Homo sapiens: one gene and its partners. The protein of the gene in region 3 purifies or fractionates together with the protein of the main gene of each other region. This does not show direct contact. Each region holds a gene or a part of one and is shown on either strand. Other genes may lie near its edges.

Region 1 (3,573 bases), on a different chromosome or scaffold from region 3:
TCTCTACTAAAAACACGAAAAACTGGCCGGGCGTGGTGGCGGGTGCCTGTAGTCTCAGCTACTCAGGAGGCTGAGGCAGGAGAATGGCGTGAGCCCAGGAGGCGGAGCTTGCAGTGAGCCAAGATAGTGCCATTGCACTCCAGCTTGGGTGACAGAGTGAGACTCCGTCTCAAAAAAAATAAATAAAAAAGAGGATGGGCTCGGGAGACCGCTGGGATCAGACCCCGGCCTTTCCACTGTGGAAACTGTCAGTGCTGCAGTTTCCTCATCTGTAAAATCCATCTTAAGAGTTACTTTAAAATTATCTTAAAACCTAATTGTACATCATTTTTTAAAGAAGTGCTTCCAAATGAGCACTTTACAAAAATATCATGTTGAGTTTGAGGTATTGGCAGAACATCCAGGTAGACATAACCAAGTACATATATAGATACACAGCTTAGAGTGGAGACTCAGAGGAGGTCTGGGTGGAAATAGGGATTTGAAAGTCATTGGCATATAAAGTAACAGTTAAAACCATGTGTTTTTTTTTTTGAGTAGTGGTATTTTCGTTGTATAAATATTATGTTTATAAATCTGAAATTTGGCAGTCCATTGTTTCTTATAGATAATTTTTATAGATAAGACCTTAGAAAGGACTTCCTCATGTGTACTTTTTTTTTTGGCAATTCAGGAAAATTTAAACCTAGCTCTGAATTCTGCCTCAGCCATTGGTTGTACAGTGGTCAACATTGGTGCATCAGATCTCAAAGAAGGAAAACCTCACTTGGTCTTGGGACTTCTCTGGCAGATCATCAAAGTTGGCCTTTTTGCTGATATTGAGATTTCCAGGAATGAAGGTAAGATCATTAGAAATATTTGCTGTTCATTGACATGTACTTGCTATGGGAAGAATTTACATTTCGCTGTTTTGCCCTCAGCTCTGATTGCATTGTTAAATGAAGGTGAGGAACTAGAGGAGCTGATGAAGCTTTCTCCCGAGGAATTACTGCTGCGATGGGTGAACTACCATCTGACCAATGCAGGATGGCATACCATCAGCAACTTCAGCCAAGACATTAAGGTTTATATTTAAATGTTCAAATTTGTGACATGAAATAAGGATGTGCAGTGTAAAAATAAAAGGGGTTCAGACTTAAATTTGAATTAAATTCACAAGAACACTTGGGATAGAAAATGAAAATTTGCATTACTGTGTGAAGTAGATCCCCCAATTATATTCACAAAATATATATTTTCTAAAAACCAGATATATTGGCTTTTAATAAGAACTACAACTGACTGTGAGAGGAAAGAGGTGCTAGCCTCAACAGATTAAAACACACTTTCTCATTTTTTATGCCTGAGATCTGCTAGATTATAATGAGGATGTCAGTCTGTTCATTTGGACTAATAATTATATCTGTTTACTGGTTTAACACTCTTACTCCCACTTTGCCAATAACCAGCTAACAGGAAATCAGATTATCTGAGGGTACAGAGAATCAGTAAATAAAGGGGATCTTAAGGTATGTGCCTTAACCAGGGTAGCTTAAAACACTTCCCTCTCTACTGGGAGAATCTTGTCAAGGAAACTATAACAGGCATTTTTGTCTAATGACAACTTTCCCTTGGTTACTGCCTGGATGGGCATTGCCAAGCCGGGTCGCTGTGACTTTTTTCTTCTCTCTGTTTCTTTATGTCCTCCCCCATCCTGCCCCCCAAGAGTAATCAGTGCTGGCTCTAATTCATGTTCCGTCTTTAGCTATATAACCTTCAGTCAGGTTATCTTTTTCCATAATGGCCTACAGGACAGTCTCTCAATTTGAAGTGACATTTTATTTCTCTGCTTTCATCTACTATACACTGTTATATTTGAAAGTTTATTTGGGAGATTTCTCTTATTCTGAAATCTCTGAAAATTCAGCTAATCAAACATTTATTCAGCTCTTTCTGAGGGGCATTATGCCCAGGCGATGCAAAGACTCAGCTCTTGAGAAGCTTGCCAATTCTACTCAGAGACAAACATGTACCAGAGGGATATTTCAGTTATCTATTGCTATATAGCAAATTATGCAAAATTTGCTTAAATAATGATTATTTCTCATCATTTTGTGGGTTGATGCATCTTGGCTGGGTGGTTCTTCTGCTTCACATGGTTTTGGCTGGGATTACTAACTCGATTACATTCAGCTGTCAGTTGGGCTCATCTGGAAAGTACACAAAGGCCTCAGTCACATGTCTGGTGCCTCAGTGCTCCTCCACAAGGCCTCTCTACATGGTGAGCTCAGGCTTCCTCACAGCATGATAGTCTCAGATAGTTGGACTTCTTATGTAGAGGTTAACTTTAAGAGAGAGGAAGCAGAAGCTCTTAAGATTTGGGCGTGGAAGCCCCAGAACATCACTTTCACAGCATTCTCTTAGTTAACGTGAATCATAAGGCCTGTCCAAATTAAAGAGGACAGGAAATAGCTTCTGCCTTTTGGTGGGAAGAGTTAATGTATGCATGGGGAAGAACTATATATCCATCTTTGGAGACAATGACATTAGATGATTTAATAGTGTGATCACTGTTTACTTATTAAGATAGGCAAGGGGTGCTGTGCACTACAGAAGAGGGGTTCTTAGTTCATCCTAGAGAATCCAGGGAAGGCATACGGGAGATAATACTTGACCTGAATCTTAACTGATGTTGATGCTTGGGTGTGTAAACAGATGGAAAAGTAAGGGAGGGTATCCAGGTGCAGGAAACAGCATTGCTATAAACTCTGAGGTGTGAAACAGGATTGCTTTGAAGCTCTGAAGTGTGAAACAGCATGGTACATTCAGGAACCTACAAGTAATTCTTTATTTTTAAAGTTATTCCATTCTTTGAGATAGAGGCAATTTCTTCAGTTTGAGCACTTGTTTTCCCTAAATTCAATGATGATTTTATTCGTTTTAAAAATGCTATTTCATATCTTTCCTTGAAGGACTCGAGAGCCTATTTTCATCTGCTTAATCAGATTGCCCCTAAAGGTGGGGAAGATGGACCTGCCATTGCCATTGACCTTTCAGGAATTAATGTGAGTGCAATTTTTAACTTTTAAAATATATTGTGGTAAAACAGACGTAGAAAATTTACCATTTTTATCATTTTCAGTGTTCAGTTCAGTGGCATTCAGTACATTTGCATTGTTGTGCAGCTATCACCATTATCCATCTCTACAAACTTTTCATCATCCTGTAGGGAAATTCTGTACTCATTAAACAATAACTCCCCATTTTCCCCTTCCCCCAGGCCCTGGTAACTACTGTTCTACTTTTTGACTATGAATTTGAATTTCAGTAGCAGGTACAGTCAAATTTAGAGTACAGTTCTCTACAAGCAGCATTCCCCAGTAGAGCCCTCAGCCCTCCATTAAAGTTTGGTGCTTTGCTCTATGGAAGTTTTTTCCATGCCCAAGGCTCCAAGCCTCCATGTCAAGCCAACTGGCTATCATGACGGAAGAAAGGGAACTGCGTAATTGTGACCTGGAGTATTTGTGGAATCAATCCTACATTCATGTTTCCCTGGTGCAAGGCAATTGGAACTCACCAGGGTGCTCTTTTGAC
Region 2 (3,573 bases), on a different chromosome or scaffold from region 3:
TGCTTTCTTTGAAAGTAGTTCAGATAATCCTGGGTGCCATATGGATTGTCAGACCCCTTGCAAAACTAGGGAGTCCACCAGGGGCTGGCACAGTGGTATTGGGAATCGGAAACCACTGCTTTGGATGGAGGAAGTCTTAGAGTACCAGGATCAGGGACAGACACATGGTCTTGGTGGGTGTTAAAATTTGCAATGCAGTATTGGAATAAATGCAATACGCTTATACCTACTACCCTTTTCCATCTGCTTCTGGCAAGGCAGTGAGACTTCTTTTCATACTTTTTGGTATAAGCTATGTATACTACCTTCATGGCGCAGTGCAGGCAGTTTTTCCCCTTTATAAAGTACCTTCTTTTAGTTTTAAAAAATTTAAGCAATTTGGTCTTTCCTGCCTTCTCATTTCTTCAGAAATATGCCTGTTACAGGAGGTGAGGCAAATCTATTTGATTCTTCTGAAATAGTTTTGGAATTTTTGATATATGGAATTTTGGTAGTTTATGCTTCGTTTTTATCTTTTAATGGTGTATTTAATTTTTTTTCTGTTCTCGAATATACAGAAAAATGTATGCTCATCACTTAACCAGTTTTAATGTGTTGATAAATTGCTCCCCATTAAAGCCAGTTGAGATCACATTGTTTGGCATTCTTTTTTTTTTTTTCAATCACACAACTCATCTTAGTTTACTTTTTGTGTCATCTTTGTAGGACGTGCACGGTGGCTCACACCTATGATCCCAGCATTTTGTGAGGCTGAAGTTGGAGAATTTATTAAGGCCAGGAGTTAAAGGCTGCAGTGAGCTATGACTGCCACTGCATTCCAGCCTGGGTGACAGAACAGGACCCTGATTCTTTTTTTATTGAGAGGCAGTCTTGCTCTGTCGCTCAGGCTTGGAGTGCAGTGGCCCGATCTCAGCTCACTGCAACCTCTGCCTCCCGGATTCAAGCAGTTCTCCTCCCTCAGCCTCCCGGGTAGCTGGGATTACAGGCATGTGCCACCATGTCTGGCTAATGTTTGTAATTTTAGTAGAGACGGGTTTTCTCCGTGTTGGCCAGGCTGGTCTTGAACTCCTAACTTCAGGTGATCCGCCCGCCTTGGCCTCCCAAAGTGCTGGGATTACAGGTGTGAGCCACTGCGCCTGGCCTAGGACCCTGATTCTTTAAAAACAACAACAACAACAACAACAAAAATGGTCTTTGTAAAAATTTTTAAATGTCAAAAAAAATTGGCTTACCATCATGGCTGATAAATGAGGAATGCTGAAAGTTCAAGCTGTTGGTTTTATATATATATATATATATATATATATATATATATATATATATATAAAATTATATATAAATGTATATATATAAATAAATAAATACATATATATAAAATGATCTAAGTTTATCATTTATCTTTGGGAGTTAGTCACTGTTCAAGTCAGTTTCTAGGTTTTAAAAAATTTTTTTATAGAGACAGGGTCTCACTCTGTTGCCCCGGTCAGAGTGCAGTGGTGCGATCATAGCTCACTGTAACTTGAAACTCCTTGGCTCAAGCAATCCTCCTGTGTCAGCCTCCCAAGTAGCTGGGACTACAGGTGGGTGCCACCATGCCTGGCTCTCTCTACAAGACAGGATCTTGCTATGTTGCCCAGATTGGTATTGTTGGAAATCTTACTCACATTTACAGTTTACTTGGCCTCAAGTGATCCTTCTGCCTTGTCCTCCCAAAGTGCTGGGATTACAGGCATGAGCCACTGCACCTGGTCAAGTTCTAGTTATTTTGTTGTTTCCTACATTGCCTTTTCTCAAATTAATCTGCTTCTTGGTATATTATTATAGCTTCAAGGTTTTTTTCTTTCTAAAATATTCACTAATTCACATTTCAATACTAATGATTAGGATAAAGATGGTGATAGAGCAGTTCACCATGCAGCTTTTGGAGATGAAGGCGCTGTTATAGAAGTACTACATCGAGGTAGTGCTGATTTGAATGCTCGAAACAAGCGCCGACAGACACCACTTCATATTGCTGTCAATAAAGGTCATCTTCAAGTTGTGAAGACTTTATTGGACTTTGGCTGTCATCCCAGTCTCCAGGTAAAACCTTTAAAGAAACACATCCTGCAGGTATTGCTAGGATCCTATTAAAGGGAAACATTAAGTTCTATGGTAAGCATTCCTTTGTTACCGTTCTCATATGTCATAGTAAATGATACCAAAGGCGTAAGATGTTACAAAATTGGCAGCTATTTCTTTTTTAAAAAGTTGTTTTTTTTTAGGGAAAATGCCAATAGATTGGGTTTTGATTGGGCAGGGAGAATGAGGACTTCTTTGTAAAAATATCAGCTTATGAATGGATTTAACTTTATTGATCATGACAGTGAGCTCAACAGCTTAAAGAAGTGTAATAGGCTATATTTCATAATAGTTACTTCATAACTATTTAAATTATTTTAATTGTAGCTTTTATTGTAGCTTAGGGACTTTGAATAGTCGTTAGTGTAATCTTCGGAGATTTCTGTTTTGGAAAATGTATAGGATTTTAGAGTTGATTTACAGTAGGATCTAATTTTTGAAGCAATGATTGCCTAAGAAATGATTATCCCCAGCTACAGTTTTATAACCAGATAAATTAAACCACAAATATATAGAAAATGTAGTCTGTGTCCATTTTCTGCTTAGTTTGGTTACTAAGCAACTTGTCTTTTGTGCACCTGTTTGATTAAAGTTTCTATACTTAGTAATTTTGTAGCTCCTGAATCTAATTTGCCAACTTTTAGGTTCCTTAACCGAATAGGCTTGAAACAACATATTATTTTTAAATAAAAGTGTTCCCTGAAATACTATTTGAATATGTAAAACATAATTTGTTTCCATTGGAAACTCAATAATGATTTTTTAAAAAGTAGGGCAGTGGTTAGAATCATAAGCTGCTTGTAGTTTAGATAATTTACAGCATCCAGGAATTGGTTGCTGGATTGGATAGATCTCAGAGAAGAAATAAAGAACAGTAGTAGTGGGAATGAGGGCTTGAGAAGAACTGAAAGAATAGATTTTGTTCAGCTAGATAATTATTAGAAATTAAGGTTTTTGAAGTGCAGCTGTTTTGGAACTGTTGGGATCTAGAGTATGTCCTTGTAAGTGGGAGGCAGGATTGGAGGATGAGGGAAGAATTGGGGGGGTGTTAATCTGTAAGGAGAGGTGATTTATACCTGCTGACGTTTTTTGTCTGAAATGGGAGACAAGTTCATCTGTTGAGAGTGGTGGGTAGAGAAAGAGTAATTGAGAAGAGTGATAAGGACTTGGGGACCTGCAGAAGGGTGTTCCAATCATGTTAGAAGCCCGTTTCAGGTTGAACACTACAGATTTTTAGTGCCGCCAGATACAGGAGTAGAAGGTAGATGGTAGATGGTTGGATTGAACTTGGGTTAGGAATTCTTTTTTTTTTTTTTTTTTTTTTTTTGAGGCAGGGTCTTGCTCTGTTGCCCAGGCTGGAATTCAGTGGCGTGATCATGGCTCATTGCAGTCTCAACCTTCAGGGCCCACCTCAGCCTCCCGAGTAGCTGGGACTACAGGTGTGAGCTGCCA
Region 3 (3,573 bases):
AAGGGGAATACTCACTACCAACTCAGTAATCAGCTTGCCTTTTCCTCCATTGATGACTTTTTTCCCAAAGTTTCTTAGTTACCTAGGTAGTTGTGGAAGACATTTCTGCATAGGTAAATTTTTTTTTGAATTTATTTCTGTAGTGTTCTCTTTCATAAATTCCTGAGCATTGAAAGTACATCTTTTTAAAATAAATTTACTAATATTTCCATTGGATCCCCCTATGTCTTCCTACCCCAGTGAAGCATCTTATAAAATTTAAGAACTGAAACTGCATTGGTTGCTACTTTCATGGTTATGGGCTCTTTCATTAATAAAGAGTAGGCTTATACTCACACCATGGAGATATTGAAACCTACATTTTTTTTCTGGTTATAATTGGAATATGTGCTCCTGTGAACAATCTAGATGTATGTAACATAGAATGTGAAAGTCCTCTGTAATCTGCCCGTGAAAGTCACAGTTAACAATTTGGTGAATATTCTTCCAGTTAGGTTTTCTATTCATAATATATATATATATTATTATTATTAGGTATGTAAGTGCTTTAGGGATTATGTCAAAGATTCTAATAAACTGTTTACTTTCCCATTGCTCTTCCTGGGAGACAAATGGTGCTCTCTATTTTGTATGTGTCTAAACCAGACTCTCTGCACTTGAGATCTGCGTATTCTACTGGAAAAGCTTCCACGCTACTGACATCTAGACTTGTGTGCTTCCTGTTTGTTCCATGGTTTTTGCTTTGTCTTTAGACCATGGATACTGTTTAAAGTAAGGGCAGTATCTTACTATGTGTGATTTTCAGTAAAAAGAATGTGCTGATGTTTTGGAGTTTAAACAAAGGAACCATTACTGGGCTTTCTAAGGGACAAAGTTAGAATGAGAGTTTCTTTGGACGTGGCGAGTTTTATTTGGGGTACGCCCAGACCTTAGGGCTTCTGTACTGCACAACTCTAGGGAGCCCCATTCTTGTGCTGTGTGTCAGGGGTGTAGTTCACATAGAATACCTTGTGGGTGGCGCCTGCAGGGTTGAGCGCTACAGGCCGTACTACTTTATGTAATTTTGTTTTGAAGCTGACGTAGGTAGGAGATTTGGGTTTGTTGTTGATGTTTCTCATTTAGGTGGTTAATAGAAAATGCTATTTTCGTTTTAACGAAAGGGGTGGATTTACCTTGAAGCTAATGAAACATCAGGCCACTCATTTGTAGGACTCCCTTTCTAGGTCTTGGGAGAAGTTCTACCAGTTTTATATTTATAATTTTGCATTTTTTTTTTCCTCAAAGAGAGCCTTCAAATAGTTAGGGCTTCAAGCTCAACAAATCTGGATCTGCCCCTGGGCCTTCCCCTTGGAAGGGGCTTGTGCATTAGAGGGGCTCAGAGGTAATACAGCCTCTGAAGCTTAAGCTTATTTAACTTCATCGCAAGTCTGCCCCTGGTTTTTGAATTTCTTACATGATTTATTTCCATGGAGTTACATATTAAATAAGCATACGGAAGCATACACGCATAGGAAGGAGGTAGTTTGGAAATTGCTTGTGACATATCCCAGGTGTGTTCCCAATTAGTGTCTCATAGACCTGCTGACTGGGCTTCCTCAGCAGTCCAGGTGGGTGTTTCTCTCCAGAAGTTGATAGTGTTCAGATCCTCACTGGCATGGCCCCTTCTTTTGTCTACAGATTCGTGGTACAGAGAAAAGCAGCGTGAGGGAGTTACACATCGCATATCGGTATGGAGAGCACTACGACAGTGTTCGGAGGATCAATGACAACTCAGAGGCACCTGCACATCTCCAGACGGATGTGAGTGAGGCCTCGGATTTCTCCCGTATTCCCCGCCCTACAGGAAACAGATTGAGAGCTGTATATCTGGCGCTAAAAACCAGTAATGTTTTTGTAGAAAGTTGGCATTGAGAATCTGTGGGCCTGATTTTAAAAATATTTTTTATTTCTTAGTTTAGGTGAGAGTGATAGATAAAATTGCTTATTATTATTTTGCTTTTTCTGATAGTTGATAGTTACAATTGTATGTGTATAAGATACATGGAATTTTAAAATTATTTTTATGTTTTAAAATTAATCCACACCTTTTTTTTTTTTTTAATTGGAGATGGAGTTTCGCTCTTGTTGCCCAGGCTGGAGTGCAGTGGTGCGATCTCGGCTCACCCAACCTCCGCCTCCCGGGTTCAAGCGATTCTCCTGCCTCAGCCTCCCTAGTAGCTGGGATTACAGGCATGTGCCACCATGCCCGGCTAATTTTGTATTTTTAGTAGAGATGGGGTTTCTCCATGTTGGTCATGCTGGTCTCAAGCTCCTGACCTCAGGTGATCTGCCCACCTTGGCCTCCCAAACTGCTGGGATTACAGGGGTGAGCCACCGCACCTGGCCTAACTCATGCTTCTTATCTGAAATCTGAAAACTATAGTAAAGGTAAAGAAGAAAATAAAAAGCATGTAAAGTCAACTCAGCTACCTGAATGTAAATTTTGTTACTGTTTTGGTAGATTTCCATTAATTTAATGCATTAAAACATGGTTGACATTTTATTTATATAGCTTTGTTTCCTGTTTTTAAAAATTAACATCATTGGCCGGGCGTGGTGGCTCACACCTGTAATCCCAGCACTTTGGGAGGCCGAGGCGGGCGGATCACCTGAGGTCGGGAGTTCAAGACCAGCCTGACCAACACAGAGAAACTCCATCTCTACTAAAAATACAAAATTAGCCGGGTGTGGTGGCGCATGCCTGTAATCCCAGCTACTCGGGAGGCTGAGGCAGGAGAATCACTTGTACCTGGGAGGTGGAGGTTGCAGTGAGTCGACATAGCACCATTGCACTCCAGCCTGGGCAACAAGAGCAAAACTCCATCTCAAAAAAAAAAAAAAAATTAGCATTATTGCATAAACCTTTTTTTCCTGTTTTTACACATGATCCAAAACCATTGTTTTTTAAACAATTTTATTTATTTTTTGAGATAAGGTCTCGCTCTGTTGCTCAGGCTGGAGTGCAGTGGCACCATCACGGCTCACAGCAGGCTTGTCTACGTGGACTCCAGCGATCTTCCCACCTTGGCCTCATGAGTAACTAGGACTACAGGTGTGCGCCACCATGCTTTGTTAATTTTTTAATTTTTTGCAGAGATGAAGTTTTGCTATGTTGCCCAGGCTGCCCTCCAGCTCCTGGGCTCAAGTGATCCTCCTGCCTTGGCCTTCCAACATGTTGGGATTACAGGTGTGAGCCATGGTGCCTGGCAATTTTAATTCTTGAATAGGTCATATTTGTCCATGGATTAGAATTCAAAATATGTAATGGGATATATAGTCAAAGTCACTCTCCTACCCTTGTACTTCAGCCACACTGTTTTCCCTGGATGCAATCAGTGGTATTAGTATATCATAAAATCTCCTGTGGTTTACATACCAAGCAAATATATATATAGATGTGCACATATTCCACTTTTGCCATTTTTACTCTCCCCACCACTAGTTGTAGCATCCTACACATACTACACATCCCACACATACATCCTGCACTGTGCTTTTTAAATTTAACATGTCTTGGGATTTAATTCATGGTAG
Region 4 (3,573 bases), on a different chromosome or scaffold from region 3:
GCCAGAACTGGTTGGCGGGCAAGTGGGCACATTGTCAGAGTAGGCTACCAGCCTCCTCTCCCTTCTTTCTCCTTTGCAGCTGCCTTGAGGTGCAGTGTTGGGGATCCAGAGCCATGTCGGACCTGCTACTACTGGGCCTGATTGGGGGCCTGACTCTCTTACTGCTGCTGACGCTGCTGGCCTTTGCCGGGTACTCAGGGCTACTGGCTGGGGTGGAAGTGAGTGCTGGGTCACCCCCCATCCGCAACGTCACTGTGGCCTACAAGTTCCACATGGGGCTCTATGGTGAGACTGGGCGGCTTTTCACTGAGAGCTGCAGCATCTCTCCCAAGCTCCGCTCCATCGCTGTCTACTATGACAACCCCCACATGGTAAGGAGTCTCCATGGGGTTCTGCCCCATGGATGGGCCTGGTGGGCCAGGGCTTCTTTGGGGAGGGTAGTTTTGGTTGCTGAGGAAAGGGTGGGAGAATCTTCAAGCTGGCCCTGCAGACCCCTCCTCTATGAGCTTGAAGCACCTTCCAGATTTAGCCTGGACTTCTGCTCCCGGCATCCATTTGTGGGCTTTCTATTTGCCCAGGTCTGGTTCCCCTTGCCCATGGCTACTTGTGGATTTCCAAATGCAGTGGACTATACCACCATGAATCCCTGGCTTCTGCCAGGACTTTGGTCCCCTGCCTCCTCTTCTTGTCATCCCTCCTTCCATCTCCATTTGGGGCCAGTGCTCTAAGGCCAGGCCATTCAGATTCTGCCCACTCTTTGGGGTTACATCTTGCTGTTTCTGTGCTTTCCATCCCTCAGCTCTTCTGCCATAGTTGTAGGCCCTTGAGGGCTGAGAGGGCAGTCCCTGGGGATGGGGCTTGGAATCTTACCTCTTCAGCCATTCTGATGCCCCTCAACCTGGTGATATGGCATTTCCTTAGACCTCAAGCTGGTGCTGGGAGATGGCCAAGGGGGCTAGTGGAGCCAGATGAGTTACTTAGAATGTTCAGAATGCTGAAGTCAAAAACTAATCCAGCATCACTAGCACCCTGTGAGCGTCTGGCTGTTCTTACAACCTATGGTGAGTCAGAGCTTGCTAATGTAACCTACTGCTATGCTATGGGGTGGTGCTGCCCACAGCTGGATGGGCTGGCAGCTCTGTCAAGGGTTCTTCAGCCTCTACTACTAAGCCATGCCAAACCAAGCATTTGGAATCCCCAGCTCTGATTTCCTTGCCTGGAGAGCTCAAGTGCACAAGTCCTGCAGTCTACCCAATGTGTGCTGACCGGCTTACTGGGGCACTAGTTGAAACAGGATGTACTGGTTCCCTCTCTGTGCCAGGTTCTACTCTACACCTACACTCTGGAGATGAATCAGACCTGGCTCTGCCCTCAGGAAGCTCTGTGTGGCTGACATGTCAGCCCCACATAAGTGATTCTCCAACAAGACACTGTGCTTGATGTCCACAGAACTTTGAGCTGTAGGTTCAGGGAGGCTGCCATGAGTCTGCTGGGGAGGCTCAGAGAAGGGGTAGATTTCAGCTGGGCCTTCTCATGTAAGTAGAATTTTGCTTTGTTGGGAAGGGGTACTTGGCTAAGAAAACTGTGACAGCAAGAGCCTGAAGACATGGGATGACCAGAGAATTGTGGTTAGTAGACATGTCTTGGGTGGAGAAAGGTGGAAGGGTTTGCCCAGCCAGGTGGTGGGGAAGTACAGCAGGTTGAGAAGAAGGATGTGGCACAATTTGCCACCTTTGTTTTAGGAAGTTAGCTGAAGGGCAGGTGGAGGAGGGAAGGAGATGAGGCAGGAGGCCGTAGAAGAGATTGGGCTGGGTCCAGGTGAGAGGCGACATGGGTTGGTTGAGGTTTTGCAGTCACATGGCCAGGAGATGGCACTAACTGAAGTTGGGAGCACTGGAGCCTGAGTGGGATGGGACAGACAGTGGGCTATGGGGAGCTCCTAGAGCAGATGTGTGACCCTCACCCCTTCAAGGGCTCCGTTGTGTAAGGCCCTGCCCCCCCTTCCACACCTGGCCCAGTCAGAGCCTTCTGCAAGAAGAGTCCTTGCAGCTGGCTGTCTTCTCATTGGCGTGTCTGCCTGTTCTGGAATCAACAGGTTGCCTCTTGGGTTGGAGGTGCTAATTCCTGGATGGGAAAGGGCTAAGGCAGCAGGGTACCCTGGGGTCAGTGCTGGAGGCTGGTCTAGGGAAGAGTGAGATGGAAGAAGCCTGGCATGGGATATTCTGGCCTGGCCACTGCCTCCTGCAGCTTTCCCAGAGATGTGGTGGACCCCATGGGGTGGGCCCTGGGTCTCCAGGGTTGGTTGGTCATAGTCTGACTAGGGTGCTTGTCTGGGGGACTGTGGCCTGAGAGCACAGCCTTGAGGCTAGCAGTCCCGAGTTCTGATTCTGTCCCATCACTGTCCTGCTGAGTGATCTTAGGCATATCCCATAATGTTTCTGAGCCTCTATTTCCTTGTCTGCAGAGTAATGATAAAATACCTGCTTCATAGTAGACTGAGAAGAGTTAAGTGATATAGGTGAGGCATTTACCCCAGCACTTAGCCCTCAACAGATGCTTAACAACAACAAAGATGGGTGGGAAAACCACTTGTGCTAACATATGCTGAGAGGTCAGACTGAGCAAACCTAGACCCTTGGCCTGGCTGTGGTCATTTGGGTGGCACAGAGGATGATGAACAAGTCAAGGTGGCCCTTCTGACCCTGCCCATCCCAGTCCTGGGTCAGTCCAGAAGACACCTGTGTCCCCATTTAGAGCTAGGTCACACTTGGCACCTGGGATGGCTCAGGGACACTTGGGTCCCCATTTACTCTTGGAGCTGGTCAGTGCATTCTCTGCCTGACAGAGATTGTAACAGGTTCAGGGAACCATGGACCCCCAGGCTTCAGGTGCTCGTGGCTATCACAGACTGGTCCGGAAGGACCTGAGGCCTCCTGGTCCACACTCCATATTATGGAGGGAGAAACAGATTCAGATAGTAGGAGAAAGGCACTGATCTCATATGTTTTTGTTTTCATTTAACAAATATCTGAGCACCTGCTCTGTACCAGGCTCTGTGTTGGGCACTAGGGTACCATGGGGACCAGGACCTGCCAGTGTGTGGGTGTTAGGAGCCTAGAGGAAAGGCCCCATCCTGGTCCTGGAGTGGGCTGAGAACCAAAGGTTTTTGTCCCCTAGGCTGCCTCCACCAGCAGTGTGCAGCGTGGCATGCTCTGGTTCTCAGAGAAAGAGAATAGAGGCTGACCTGTTCAGTGTCCCACCCCCACTGTGTCCTTCCCTAGCCCAGAGTGACAGGAGCCAGAACCTGCTTCTCTGTGAGTGTGGGGAGGCAGTGAGGCTGTGTCAGGCTCTGTGAGTGGGGTGGTGAGTAACCAGGTGAGAGGTGCCACCTGGCTTTAGATGCTGCCCACCCCATGAGGTGTGACGGACAGCTCCCTAGCCATGCCTCGTCCTGTCCTCAGCTGGGCAGGGAGTAGGCTGGTCCCACCTAGGCTGGGTGTGGACCCAGGAAGTAGCACAAGAAAGGGTACCACTAAGATTGGACAGTGGCAGTTGGTGTGGACCTGTTCATAG

What was found. The genes of interacting proteins can lie anywhere in the genome.
Region 1: the proteins of OTUD3 (region 3) and PLS1 purify together in Homo sapiens (affinity purification with mass spectrometry; one large-scale study listed by BioGRID and IntAct). This does not show direct contact.
Region 2: the proteins of OTUD3 (region 3) and MIB1 purify together in Homo sapiens (affinity purification with mass spectrometry; one large-scale study listed by BioGRID and IntAct). This does not show direct contact.
Region 4: the proteins of OTUD3 (region 3) and TEX264 purify together in Homo sapiens (affinity purification with western blotting, with the first as the bait; one study listed by BioGRID). This does not show direct contact.

The regions. Positions count from the first base shown.
Region 1 is NC_000003.12:142,683,333-142,686,905, forward strand, and holds part of PLS1 (plastin-1), read left to right. Parts: intron 1-673; coding exon 674-839; intron 840-920; coding exon 921-1,063; intron 1,064-2,951; coding exon 2,952-3,044; intron 3,045-3,573. UniProt on the Homo sapiens protein: Actin-bundling protein. In the inner ear, it is required for stereocilia formation. Mediates liquid packing of actin filaments that is necessary for stereocilia to grow to their proper dimensions.
Region 2 is NC_000018.10:21,813,732-21,817,304, forward strand, and holds part of MIB1 (E3 ubiquitin-protein ligase MIB1), read left to right. Parts: exon of another isoform or gene 1-164; coding exon of another isoform or gene 165-173; intron 174-1,884; coding exon 1,885-2,082; intron 2,083-3,573. UniProt on the Homo sapiens protein: E3 ubiquitin-protein ligase that mediates ubiquitination of Delta receptors, which act as ligands of Notch proteins.
Region 3 is NC_000001.11:19,895,863-19,899,435, forward strand, and holds part of OTUD3 (OTU domain-containing protein 3), read left to right. Parts: intron 1-1,677; coding exon 1,678-1,800; intron 1,801-3,573.
Region 4 is NC_000003.12:51,674,192-51,677,764, forward strand, and holds part of TEX264 (testis-expressed protein 264), read left to right. Parts: intron 1-79; coding exon of another isoform or gene 80-113; coding exon 114-371; intron 372-3,573. UniProt on the Homo sapiens protein: Major reticulophagy (also called ER-phagy) receptor that acts independently of other candidate reticulophagy receptors to remodel subdomains of the endoplasmic reticulum into autophagosomes upon nutrient stress, which then fuse with lysosomes for endoplasmic reticulum turnover.